4 linked regions of the Homo sapiens genome follow. The protein of the gene in region 1 interacts with the protein of each later gene in a biochemical or structural test. Each region holds a gene or a part of one and is shown in the gene's direction. Other genes may lie near its edges. The genes, in order: SLBP, CUL4A, MIF4GD and CDK6.

Region 1 (3,634 bases):
GTGGTTTGCACCTGTAGTCCCAGCTACTTGGGAGACAGGTGGGAGAACTGCTTCAGCCCAGGAATTCAACGTTACAGTGAACCATTAATCACACCACTGCACTCCAGCCTGGGCTGCAGAGTATGAGACTTTGTCTCTTAAAAAAAAAAATTTTACTTTTGGCTGAGTGCAGTGGCTCATGCCTGTAATCCCAGCACTTTGGGAGGCCGAGGAGTGCGGATCATGAGGTCAGGAGATCGAGACCACCCTGGCTAACACGGTGGAACCCCGTCTCTACTAAAAATACAAGAAATTTGCTGGGCGTGGTGGCACACATTTGTAGTCCCAGCTACTCGGGAGGCTGAGGCAGGAGAATCACTTGAACCTGGGAGGAGGAGGTTGCAGTGAGCCGAGATTGCACCACTGCACTCCAGCCTGGGTCACAGAGCAAGACTCCATCTCAAAAAAAACAATTTTTTTTTTTTTTTTTTACTTTTTTGGAACATAGCTGGCAAAGGAATAGTAAGATTCAATGTGATGGTGCTTTTTTTTTTCCCTCCTGACCGAGTCTTGCTGTTACCTAGGCTGAAGTGCAGTGTTATATCATGTCTCACTGTGTATTCATTTTTTTGAGACGGAATCTTGCTCTGTTGCCCAGGCTGGAGTGCAGTGGCGCAATTTCAACTCCACCTCTCGGGTTCAAGCGATTCTCCTGCCTCAGCCTCCACAGGCGCCTGCCACCACACTTGGTTAATTTTCGTATTTTCAGTAGAGATGGGGTTTTACCATATTGGCCAGGCTGGTCTCGCACTGCTGATCTCGTGATCCGTCTGTCTCTGCCTCCCACAGTGCTGGGATTACAGGGGTGAGCCACCACGCCCAACCATCATGGCTCACTGTAGTCTTAACTCCTGGCCTCAAGCAATCCTCCTACCTCAACCTCCTGAGTAGCTGGGACCAGCGGTGCATGCCGCCACACCTGGCTAAACTTTTAAATTTTTATAGAGATGGGAGTCTCCCTATGTCGCCCAGGCTGGTCTTGAACTCCTGGCCTCAAGTAGTCCTCCCAAAGTACTGTGATTACAAGCGTGAGCCACTGTGCCCAGCGGATAGTGATTTTTTTGAGACCGAGTTTCACTCTAGTCCAGGCTGGAGTACAATGGTGCAATCTTGGCTCACCGCAACCTCCGCCTCCCAGGTTCAAGCGATTCTCCTGCCTCAGCCTCCCAAGTAGCTGGAATTACAGGCATGCGCCACCATGCCTGGGCTAATTTTTTTGTATTTTTAGTACAGATGGTGTTTCTCCATGTTGGTCAGGCTGGTCTCGAACTCCTGACTTTGGGTGATCTGCCTGCCTCGGCCTCCCAAAGTGCTGGGATTACAGGTGTGAGCCACCGCACCCGGCCCGGATAGTGCTTTTTAATTTTTTAATTTTTTTAAACATATTTGTTCATTTTGTAGGATCTCAGTTGATTTTTTATTTATTTATTTATTTTTGAGACGGAGTCTCCCTCTGTCACCAGGCTGGAGTGCAGTGGCACGATTTTGGCTCACTGCAACCTCCGCCTCATGGGTTCAAGTGATTCTCCTGCCTCAGCCTCCCGAGTAGCTGGGATTACAGGTGTCTACCACCACGCCTGGCTAGTTTTTTGTATTTTTAGTGGAGACAGGGTTTCACCCTGTTGGCCAGGCTGGTCTTGAACTTCTGATCTCAGGTGATCTGCCTGCCTCAGCCTCCCAAAGTGCTGGGATTACAGCGTGAACCACTGTGCCCGGCTTTTTTTTTTTTTTTTTTTTTTTTTTTTTAAGGTGGAGTCTTGCTCTGTTGACCAGACTGGAGTTGCAGTGGCATGATCTAGGCTCATTGCAACCATCGCCTCCCAGGTTCAAGCAATTCTTCTGCCTCAGCCGCTGGAGTAGCTGGGACTCAAGGCATAAGCCACCATGACTGGCTAATTTTTGGTATTTTTAGTAGAGATGAGGTTTCATCATGTTGGCCAGCCTGATCTCAGGCTCTTGAGTTCAAGTGATTTGCCACACCCAGCAGCGTTTGTTTTTTTTTTTTTTGGAGGTGAAGTCTCGCTGTGTTGCCCATGCTGGAGTGCAGTGGCACGATCTCGGCTCACTGCAAGCTCTGCCTCCCGGGTTCAGGCGATCCTCCTCCCTCAGCCCCCTAATAGCTAGGATTACAGGCACAGGCCACCACGCCCGGCTAATTTTTGCATTTTTAGTAGAGACGGGGTTTCACCATGTTGGCCAAGCTGGTCTCGAACTGCTGACCTCAGGTGATCCACCCACCTTGGCCTCCCAAAATGCTAGGATTATAGGTGTGAGCCACCGCTCCCAGCCCCTAGCTGTTTTTTTGTTCTGTTTTGTTGTTTTTTTTAAATAGAGACGAGGTCTCACTGTGTTGCCCAGGCCATTTTTAAATTCCTGAGCTTAAGTGATCTTGGCATGACCTCCCAAAATGCTAGGATTACAGGCATGAGCCACCATGCCTGGTGATCTGTAATATTTAAAATAATACTAATCTCATAGTTTGGTTAATCTTCAGGCTAATGTGGAAATGTGAGTGGCATGTGGGCATGTGCTAGAATAATCTTTCTCCTGTAGACACCTTCGACAACCTGGCATTCATCCCAAGACCCCTAATAAATTTAAGAAGTATAGTCGACGTTCATGGGACCAGCAAATCAAACTCTGGAAGGTGGCTCTGCATTTTTGGGATCCTCCAGCGGAAGAAGGATGTGATTTGCAAGAAATGTATGTCTTTATTGCATTCTTGTCCTGTGATTCTCTGATTGGTCCAGTGACTGGAGCAGCTGCGCACCACTGGGACAGGAGGTCTGGTGCCAAGTCCCCCAGCAGCTGTTGGGGAGCAGAGCAGCTGCTGCAGCTCGGTGCTGAGTTCTTCTGTACTGGGAGGGAGGCAGCTGGAAGGAAGAGTTTGCTTCCTGGATTGAATTTATTTTTTCAAGCAAAGTCAATCTGGGAATACAGTTTTTGTTTGTTGTTTTGCTGTTTTTGTTGTTGTAGTTGTTTTTCCCCTAAAAATTACAATAATCTCTGGAATTTGTTTTTTAAATATAAATATCCTAAAAAGTATTTGAGTCATTTCGGCTCAACCATGAAAATAAAAGTTCTTAATTAAGGAAGGAAGGCTTTCTTTCTCTGTTGGCTTTTTTTTTTTGGGAGATGCTCTGTCACCGAGGCTGGAGTGCAGTGGCGTGATCCCGGCTCACTGCAACCTTCACCTTCTGGGTTCAGGTGGTTCTCCTGCCTCAGCCTCCTGAGTAGCTGGGATTACAGGCACGCGCCACCACGCCCAGCTATTTTTTGTATTTTTAGTGGAGACGGGGTTTCACCATGTAATTCCTGACCTTGTGATCTACCCGCCTCAGCCTCCCAAAGTGCTGGGATTACAGGGGTGAGCCACTGCTCCCAGCCCCGTTGGCCTTTAAACTTGTGCCTAGTTGAAATGTCTCAGGCCTGAACTTTTGCTGCATCATGGCAATACCTGCTGACCAGGAAGGTAGAGAGAATGATCGTGTACCTCCCTCCCTCTATGTGGGGTTTCTTCTCAGCTCCCCTCTGGTCCTGAGCCTCTCGCTTCCTCAGACACATTCTTTAAACAAACAATTAGAGTTTCTCCTCT
Region 2 (3,634 bases), on another chromosome or scaffold:
CCCATAATGAAAAGATAAACAAAATTTCCAGAGAATTACACTAAGAGGAAAAAAAGAAAAGCCAATCACAGATACTTAACGTGTTATTGCATAACATTTTGGAAATGACAAAATTTAGAAATGGAGGATAGATGAAAAGTTACCAGGGTGTAGGGATGGGGCAGGGTGTGTGGTTATAAAAGGCCCCAGGAGGTAGCCTTCTGCGGGAACAGTCGGGGTTTCGGCCGAGGTCTAGATGTGCACACCCAGATGAGTTACGAGTAAACTGGGCCATGTGAAAAAGACGGGTGCGCTGCCATGTCAGTACCCCAGCTGAGACACTGTTGTGTAGTTTCGCAAACCGTTGCCATTGGAGGAAACTGTGGAAATAAAGACACTGGGATTGCTTTGCTATTTTTACTATTATGCAAATCTGTCATTATCTGAATAAAGATTTCCGTTAAATAAAAAAGATAAAGCTTACATGCTGCTTTATGGAATAATCAGACCTGAAGTCATGTATCAGTCCAGCTGTGGAAAGCCAGCACTCACAGCACCCCTCCCCACAAGGTCTCGTACAATGATAGAATTGGAACTTATAACTGAGTCACACTAAATTGGCCATAAAGCTACTGAAGATTTAGGTTTTTTGCCAGTGAGACAGTCTTCAGGGGATGGGAATGTGTGCTAAAAACTAGGAAAAGTTCACCTTTGCAGTTTCCAGTCTGGGTAATAAAAATCAGTGAGTGACCATCACCCCTGAGTGTCAGCAATAAGTAGTTATACTGTAACAAAATAGTAGTTTATATTCAACTCCACATGCCGTTATCAAAATAAAGCTGGGCCTTGTAGTGTATGTGCATTATTTCAAAATGCAGTTAGCACCAAAGGGTGTAGAGTAAGAGGTAAGTCCCTCCCACACCTGCTAGCCACACACCGCCCCTCTCTGGGAGAGTCTGTGCCCTTTCTGTTGGCATCTTTTTTTTTTTTTTTTTTTTTGAGGTGGAGTCTCACTCTGTCATCCAGGCTGGAGTGTAGTGGCGTGATCTCAGCTCACTGCAACCTCTGCCTCCTGGGTTCAAGCAGTTCCCTGCCTCAGCCTCCTGAGTAGCTGGGATTACAGGCTCCCGCCACCACACCTGGCCAATTTTTGTATTTTTAGTAGAGATGGGGTTTCACCATATTGTCCAAGCTGGTCTTGGAACTCCAGACCTTGTGATCCACCCGCCTTAGCCTCCCAAAGTGCTGGGATTACAAGCGTGAGCCACTGCGCCCAGCCTTCTCTTGGCATCTTTCCACCAGCCAGCTACCTCGCGTGTGTGTGTGATGTGTGAGTGCACATGTGCATTCTATTGAGACGAATTTTTTAAATCCAATCATTGTATTCAGTTCCTCTTCGGCATATATAGTTTATATCATCAAATGTTAACTGTTTATTAGTGCCCTACACAGACTTTTAGGAATGTTTAATATAACAGTTTTAAATTAAAAATACAAACTAGGCTAGGCACAGTGGCTCACGCTTGTAATCCCACCACTTTGGGAGGCCAAGGCAGGCAGATCATGAAGTCAAGAGATCAAGACCATCCTGGCCAACATGGTGAAACCCCGTCTCTAGCTGGGCGTGGTGGTGTGCACCTGTAGTCCCAGCTACATGGGAGGCGGAGGTTGCAGTGAGCCGAGATCACGCCACTGCACTCCAGCCTGGTGACAAAGCGAGAGTCCATCTCAAAACAAAAAAAAAAAAGTACAAACTAAAAAAGTGAGCTTTTCATGGTTAGAAGTGATGGAGAAGGAAAACTAGCCAAGAAGTCCCAAGAGGTATATTGAATTAATAGGAATTAACTTGTCTTGGAGGAACTTACACATAAACATTCTTTAAAAAGCAACGGACATTTTCCAGTCGTTTGTAAGTTCTCTCAGAAACAGAATCGTAAGACCAATGCATTAATTGTGTATTTAATTGTATATTCACACCAAGCACAGGGGCTCATGCCTGTAAACCCAGCACTTTGGGAAATCACAGTGGGAGGATTGCTTGAGGCCAGGAGTTCGAGACCAGCCTGGGCAACATGACCCCGTCTCTACAAAACTTTAAAAAGATGGGCCAGATGTGGTGGCCTGAGCCTGTAGCACCAGCTACTCAGGAGGCTGAGGTGGGAGGATTGCTTGAGCTTGGGAGGTTGAGGCTGCAGTGAACCGTGATTGCACCACCGCACTCCAGCCTCGGCCGCAGAGTGAGGGCCTGCCTCAAAAAAAAGTGTATTCACTTAATTTTTGAAATGTGAATTCAATTTGTGAAACTTTTAAAGTTATTGAGTATTTACTACTAAGAGTAATTTATGTTAAACTATCCTGATTATATGATAGCAGGAGAAGATACTGTTTGCTATTGTAAACATGTTGCTGAGTTGGTATTGATTTGCTTTTGTAGACTTTTGGAACAGCGATCGTAATCAATCCTGAGAAAGACAAAGACATGGTCCAAGACCTGTTGGACTTCAAGGACAAGGTGGACCACGTGATCGAGGTCTGCTTCCAGAAGAATGAGCGGTTCGTCAACCTGATGAAGGAGTCCTTTGAGACGTTCATCAACAAGAGACCCAACAAGCCTGCAGAACTGATCGGTAGAAAAATATTTGTTTTTTTTGTTTGTTTGTTTTTGAGACAGTCTCACCCATTTCTAGACAATTTTTTAATATGGGAAAATAAGGCAAAATCAACCAAAATGTTCAAGCTGCTCAAGGGGTGTGTGGAAAGCGTTTTTATCAAGTCTTATTAGGACACAAATTTAAAAACCGACACACCTGCATGCATGGGTGGAGGAGGGCATTTCCATAAGGGAAGATGAGGTAAGAATTTAGAAAAGAAATGATGCTTGACTTCGCCAAAGAAGGGAGGGGTGATCACCATCTTTGTATCCTCTAATCCATATTAAAATAGGATAAAACCAGATGAGATCTCAAATGATAATACTATTTTTAAGCTGTACAATTTTTTCACAATAATATCAAAATATATTTCAGAATTCATAGGCTTTCTCTAGTCAGTAAAATTTTTTTTTTAATTCGAAGGAGAAAGGGGGCAAAGAGAGCTGAAATACGACGATACTAGATTGACTGTTGATTACTGCTGAAGATGTAAGATGGAACATGGAGCTCATTGTGCAATTGTCTGCTTTTCTGTGTGTTCAGAATATTCCATTACAAAATGTTTAAAAGAAAAAAACTAACAAAAACAGCAACAGAAGGAATTCAGGAGGCAGTTTACTTTGGCTTTTGTTCCTCTGTATCATTTGTGGTTTCTCTAAAGCAAAGGGATGTTGAGCTCTTGGGAGTTTGGGCTTCTGGAAGTCTTGGGTTCTCCCATCACATGGGGACTTTGGTCCTCCCTCCCAAGCCACCTGACGATGGCTTGTGCAGCCTCAGAAACAGGAAGCCCGAGTAGAAATGCTTTCACCCTGCGTTGCCACCTTGGATGCTCTGAGAAAGTCTTTCTCTTTGAGAATGTCTCCTCTGCATTCATGACACCAGATCCTAGAAATAGGCACTCCAGCGTCCGGGGCAGTCACGTCCTGAAACCTGAGCATGTATTTGCTGAAGTCATTTTATTTTGAAATTCAGAGATTGCATTTAAAGATAAGAAAGATATTTAA
Region 3 (2,638 bases), on another chromosome or scaffold:
TTCACTTCAAGCATATGAGTGCTCTACTGTAAATATCTCAAATTCTTAGAAGCGGGTGGACACAAATGTGATAAAGCAGCAGCTCTAGACTCCCCTCCTATCTCTACCCCTAGATCCGGGTGCTGTGGACTTGGAGAAAGTGGCCAATGTGATTGTGGACCATTCTCTGCAGGACTGTGTGTTCAGCAAGGAAGCAGGACGCATGTGCTACGCCATCATTCAGGTTGGGGGTTGGGAGAGGAAAGGAAGCTGCTTTGAGGAAGGTGCTTCAGGAGTGGGCAGAAGGCCTGGCCTGCAGGACAGAGATGCACAGGGTCTAGCTCAAAGAGAGAGAGAGGCATAGGATGGGTGGGGTTACAGGGGCACCGCCCCCCACCCTTCACCTTCCTCTCCCTGGCTCACAGGCAGAGAGTAAACAAGCAGGCCAGAGTGTCTTCCGACGTGGACTCCTCAACCGGCTGCAGCAGGAGTACCAGGCTCGGGAGCAGCTGCGAGCACGCTCCCTGCAGGGCTGGGTCTGCTATGTCACCTTTATCTGCAACATCTTTGACTACCTGAGGGTGAGGCCCCGGCAGCCACCCTGGGAGGCAGACATGGCCTGTTTCCTGAGGCCCAGGTTGGACTGCTCCCCTTGGCCACTAAGCCTGGTGCTCTGACCCCTCCTCTTCCTCACAGGTGAACAACATGCCCATGATGGCCCTGGTGAACCCTGTCTATGACTGCCTCTTCCGGCTGGCCCAGCCAGACAGTTTGAGCAAGGAGGAGGAGGTGGGTGGCCCCAGCCCTGGCACAAGCACAGAAGGCTGCAGGATGGACAGTCCAGCTCAGCCGTGTGTCAGCCCACTGCTCACGGAGGTCTCTGAGGACTGTGTCACTTCTGGGGCAGGACTGTGGGGGTGTTTAAGGCCTGTCAGTTATAGGACAAGCTGCCAGGTCTGGAGTTTATCCAATAGAGAGCAGCCAAAACCTACTGGCTCAGTAGCTTCCTTCTCAGTCAGAAAGCCAACGTATGATGGCAGCTGTGCAAGCCATGGCTAGCTGTGGGTACAGACGGCCCCAAAGCCAAACCAGGGTCAGGCAGTGTGTGGGAGGCAGGAGAGTGGGATGAAGAAGTGGTTTGGAGACAGGCTTGAGTGGAGCCTGGCCAGATGAGGGACCTCAGGCAAGTCCCGGAACTCATTTCTTTCTGTGTAAGATGTGGAAGTACCCACTGGATGGTAAGGAGGGAGCAAGGGAATGAGTGTAAAGGCAAAGCACAGCACCTGGCACTTGGCAAATGCTGTGTGAGAGGCTGGCACTGCCCCAGTTCACTTGTGTTACCCACACTGTCGCCTGCAGGTGGACTGTTTGGTGCTGCAGCTGCACCGGGTTGGGGAGCAGCTGGAGAAAATGAATGGGCAGCGCATGGATGAGCTCTTTGTGCTGATCCGGGATGGCTTCCTGCTCCCAACTGGCCTCAGCTCCCTGGCCCAGCTGCTGCTGCTGGAGATCATTGAGTTCCGGGCGGCCGGCTGGAAGACAACGCCAGCTGCCCACAAGTATTACTACAGCGAAGTCTCCGACTAGGCCTCCAGATCAGGGCTTCCTCACCAGCACTGGCCTTTCTTCTACCCACCTCTAAAGCTGGCAGTGGAGTCTCTGCCTCACCCAAAGACTTTTCCCTTCCAGACTTTGAGTGTCTTCCCTTCTAGACTTTCCCATCTCCTGGTGAGATGTTTCCCACTTATGCCGTGGTCCTGCCCTGAGCCCCTTTCCCCACCACAACCCACCACGGCCAGGCAGAGAAGGGCAACTCCCAAGAGCCACTGCACTGTGTAACCATTAGTGCAACTACTACCTTGGTGCCTCAGTTTACCCATCTGTAAAATGGGTAAGCATAGCCACTGGTGGGATATTTTGGGATGTCAAGGGGTGGAGGCAGAGCACAAGTCACACCAGAAACTGCTTTTTATACATTTTGTATAAGGACAACTCTGGAAACAAGCCTATTTCCTCCAGCCAGTTTCACTGAATGCTGCACCACATGCTACACCAGTTCAGCGTGAGAATTTTCTAATAAATCTTTTCTGATACTAAAACTGCTTCCTTTATATATCCAAAGGTCCGCCCCAACCTAAGGGAAGAGAAAACAGCCCTGAGTTTCCTGGAGGAAATTCCCAAGTCAATGTGCTCCCTCTTTACAAGGAAATAGGGGCAGAGAGAGCAAGTTCCAGCCTCAAAGAAAGAAGGATTAACGGATAGTGAATATGCTGCTACATCTTTCTTACGAGGCCTGCCCACCCTTACAAAGGAACTACATCCTTAACCCACAGGTAGTTTTCAGCGTGGCAGTAGCTCACACTGTTTCTTGCGGCAGAGGGCCCTGGGCTCCTCCTGGAGACTCTACCACCAGCGGTAGTGGGCCAGGGCACGGTTGGCCTCTGCCATCTTGTGCAAGTCATGCTTCCTCTTGATCACGGGGCCCTGGTTATGGAAAGCCTCCAGCAGCTTGTGTGACAGCTTCTCCGGCATCAGTGTCCGCTGGTGCTTTTTATCCCGGCACTCAGTGATCATCCACTTCATGGCTAGGAAGCGGCGACGCCGGTCGGGTAGGGGTACAGGGACCTGGGTGAGACAGGACATAGGCAAGTTGGTCCAA
Region 4 (2,711 bases), on another chromosome or scaffold:
GGTAATAAAAAGCAAGGATTGCCTGTATAATTTATTATAAAATAAAAGGGATTTTAACAACCAACAATTCCCAACACCTCAAAAGCTTGTTGCATTTTTTGGTATTTGAGGTTTTTATCTGAAGGTTAAAGGGCAAGTGTTTGGTATAGAAGAGCAGTATGTGTTAAGAAAAGAAAAATATTGGTTCACGTAGAGTGCAAATTAGAACTAGAAAGTTTTATACGATTATCATTTTGAGATGTGTTAAAGTAGGTTTTCACTGTAAAATGTATTAGTGTTTCTGCATTGCCATAGGGCCTGGTTAAAACTTTCTCTTAGGTTTCAGGAAGACTGTCACATACAGTAAGCTTTTTTCCTTCTGACTTATAATAGAAAATGTTTTGAAAGTAAAAAAAAAAAATCTAATTTGGAAATTTGACTTGTTAGTTTCTGTGTTTGAAATCATGGTTCTAGAAATGTAGAAATTGTGTATATCAGATACTCATCTAGGCTGTGTGAACCAGCCCAAGATGACCAACATCCCCACACCTCTACATCTCTGTCCCCTGTATCTCTTCCTTTCTACCACTAAAGTGTTCCCTGCTACCATCCTGGCTTGTCCACATGGTGCTCTCCATCTTCCTCCACATCATGGACCACAGGTGTGCCTGTCTAGGCCTGGCCACCACTCCCAACTTGACCTAGCCACATTCATCTAGAGATGGTTCCTGATGCTGGGCACAGACTGTGCTCATGGCACCCATTAGAAATGCCTCTAGCATCTTTGTATGCATCTTGATTTTTAAACCAAGTCATTGTACAGAGCATTCAGTTTTGGCTGTGGTACCAAGAGAAAAACTAATCAAGAATATAAACCACATTCCAGGCTGCTGTTTTCTCTCCATCTACAGGCCACACTTTTACTGTATTTCTTCATACTTGAAATTCATTCTGCTATTTTCATATCAGGGTACAGACTTATAAGGGTGCATGTTCCTTAAAGGTGCATAATTATTCTTATTCCGTTTGCTTATATTGCTACAGAATGCTCTGTTTTGGTGCTTTGAGTTCTGCAGACCCAAGAAGCAGTGTGGAAATTCACTGCCTGGGACACAGTCTTATAAGAATGTTGGCAGGTGACTTTGTATCAGATGTTGCTTCTCTTTTCTCTGTACACAGATTGAGAGTTACCACAGTGGCCTGTCGGGTCCACCCTGTGGGTGCAGCACAGCTCTCTGAAAGCAAGAACCTTCCTACCTATTCTAACGTTTTTGCCCTCTAAGAAAAATGGCCTCAGGTATGGTATAGACATAGCAAGAGGGGAAGGGCTGTCTCACTCTAGCAACCATCCCTCCATTACACACAGAAAGCCCTCTTGAAGCAAAAGAAGAAGAAAGAAAGAAAGCTTATCTCTAAGGCTACTGTCTTCAGAATGCTCTGAGCTGAATGCTCTTGCTCCTTTCCCAAGAGGCAGATGAAAATATAGCCAGTTTATCTATACCCTTCCTATCTGAGGAGGAGAATAGAAAAGTAGGGTAAATATGTAACGTAAAATATGTCATTCAAGGACCACCAAAACTTTAAGTACCCTATCATTAAAAATCTGGTTTTAAAAGTAGCTCAAGTAAGGGATGCTTTGTGACCCAGGGTTTCTGAAGTCAGATAGCCATTCTTACCTGCCCCTTACTCTGACTTATTGGGAAAGGGAGAACTGCAGTGGTGTTTCTGTTGCAGTGGCAAAGGTAACATGTCAGAAAATTCAGAGGGTTGCATACCAATAATCCTTTGGAAACTGGATGTCTTACTGGGTGCTAGAATGAAAATGTAGGTATTTATTGTCAGATGATGAAGTTCATTGTTTTTTTCAAAATTGGTGTTGAAATATCACTGTCCAATGTGTTCACTTATGTGAAAGCTAAATTGAATGAGGCAAAAAGAGCAAATAGTTTGTATATTTGTAATACCTTTTGTATTTCTTACAATAAAAATATTGGTAGCAAATAAAAATAATAAAAACAATAACTTTAAACTGCTTTCTGGAGATGAATTACTCTCCTGGCTATTTTCTTTTTTACTTTAATGTAAAATGAGTATAACTGTAGTGAGTAAAATTCATTAAATTCCAAGTTTTAGCAGAATGTGTTTTTTTTCTTTCTTTTTTTTTTTTTTTTTTTTTTTTTGGTGCTTCTTATTTGCAACCTGGCCATGTGGTAGAAAGAATGTGTTTTAAAGTTTTACTTTAAGAGATTCCTTTTCAGGCTTCTAGTGTTTAAAAAGTAAATAACAGCTAAGTGAGCTTAGAACTCATTCAACAATTGGCCGGGCACGGTGGCTCATGCCTTTAATCCCAGTACTTTGGGAGGCCGAGGCAGGCAGATCACCAGAGGTCAGGAGTTCAAGACCAGGCTGGCCAACGTGGTGAAACCCTGTGTCTACTAAAAATACATGAAAACTAGCCGGGCATGGTGGCACGCGCCTGTAATCCCAGCTACTCAGGAGACTGAGGCAGGAGAATCACTTGAACCTGGGAAGTGGAGGTTGCAGTGACCTAAGATGGCGCCACTGCACTCCTGCCTAAGCAACAGAGCAAGACTCCATCTCAAAAAAAAAAAAGAACTCATTCAACAATCATGCGTTGCTTAATGACTGAGATACAGTCTGAGAGATGCATTGTTAGGGGATTTCATCGTTGTGAGAACATCATAGAGTGTACTTACACAAATACACACCTA

The links.
Region 2: the proteins of SLBP (region 1) and CUL4A form a complex in vitro, tested with the Homo sapiens proteins (one study listed by BioGRID).
Region 3: the proteins of SLBP (region 1) and MIF4GD interact in a biophysical measurement, tested with the Homo sapiens proteins (one study listed by IntAct).
Region 4: of the proteins of SLBP (region 1) and CDK6, one has a biochemical effect on the other in vitro, tested with the Homo sapiens proteins (one large-scale study listed by BioGRID and IntAct).

The regions. Positions count from the first base shown.
Region 1 is NC_000004.12:1,695,310-1,698,943, reverse strand, and holds part of SLBP (histone RNA hairpin-binding protein), read left to right. Parts: intron 1-2,592; coding exon 2,593-2,742; intron 2,743-3,634. UniProt on the Homo sapiens protein: RNA-binding protein involved in the histone pre-mRNA processing.
Region 2 is NC_000013.11:113,240,555-113,244,188, forward strand, and holds part of CUL4A (cullin-4A), read left to right. Parts: intron 1-2,413; coding exon 2,414-2,606; intron 2,607-3,634. UniProt on the Homo sapiens protein: Core component of multiple cullin-RING-based E3 ubiquitin-protein ligase complexes which mediate the ubiquitination of target proteins. As a scaffold protein may contribute to catalysis through positioning of the substrate and the ubiquitin-conjugating enzyme.
Region 3 is NC_000017.11:75,265,668-75,268,305, reverse strand, and holds the end of MIF4GD (MIF4G domain-containing protein), read left to right. Parts: intron 1-113; coding exon 114-223; intron 224-404; coding exon 405-560; intron 561-675; coding exon 676-768; coding exon of another isoform or gene 769-855; intron 856-1,338; coding exon 1,339-1,566; 3' UTR 1,567-2,078; downstream 2,079-2,638. Other genes in the region: MRPS7 (small ribosomal subunit protein uS7m), read right to left, coding at 2,383-2,604. UniProt on the Homo sapiens protein: Functions in replication-dependent translation of histone mRNAs which differ from other eukaryotic mRNAs in that they do not end with a poly-A tail but a stem-loop. May participate in circularizing those mRNAs specifically enhancing their translation.
Region 4 is NC_000007.14:92,604,327-92,607,037, reverse strand, and holds the end of CDK6 (cyclin-dependent kinase 6), read left to right. Parts: 3' UTR 1-2,117; downstream 2,118-2,711. UniProt on the Homo sapiens protein: Serine/threonine-protein kinase involved in the control of the cell cycle and differentiation; promotes G1/S transition. Phosphorylates pRB/RB1 and NPM1.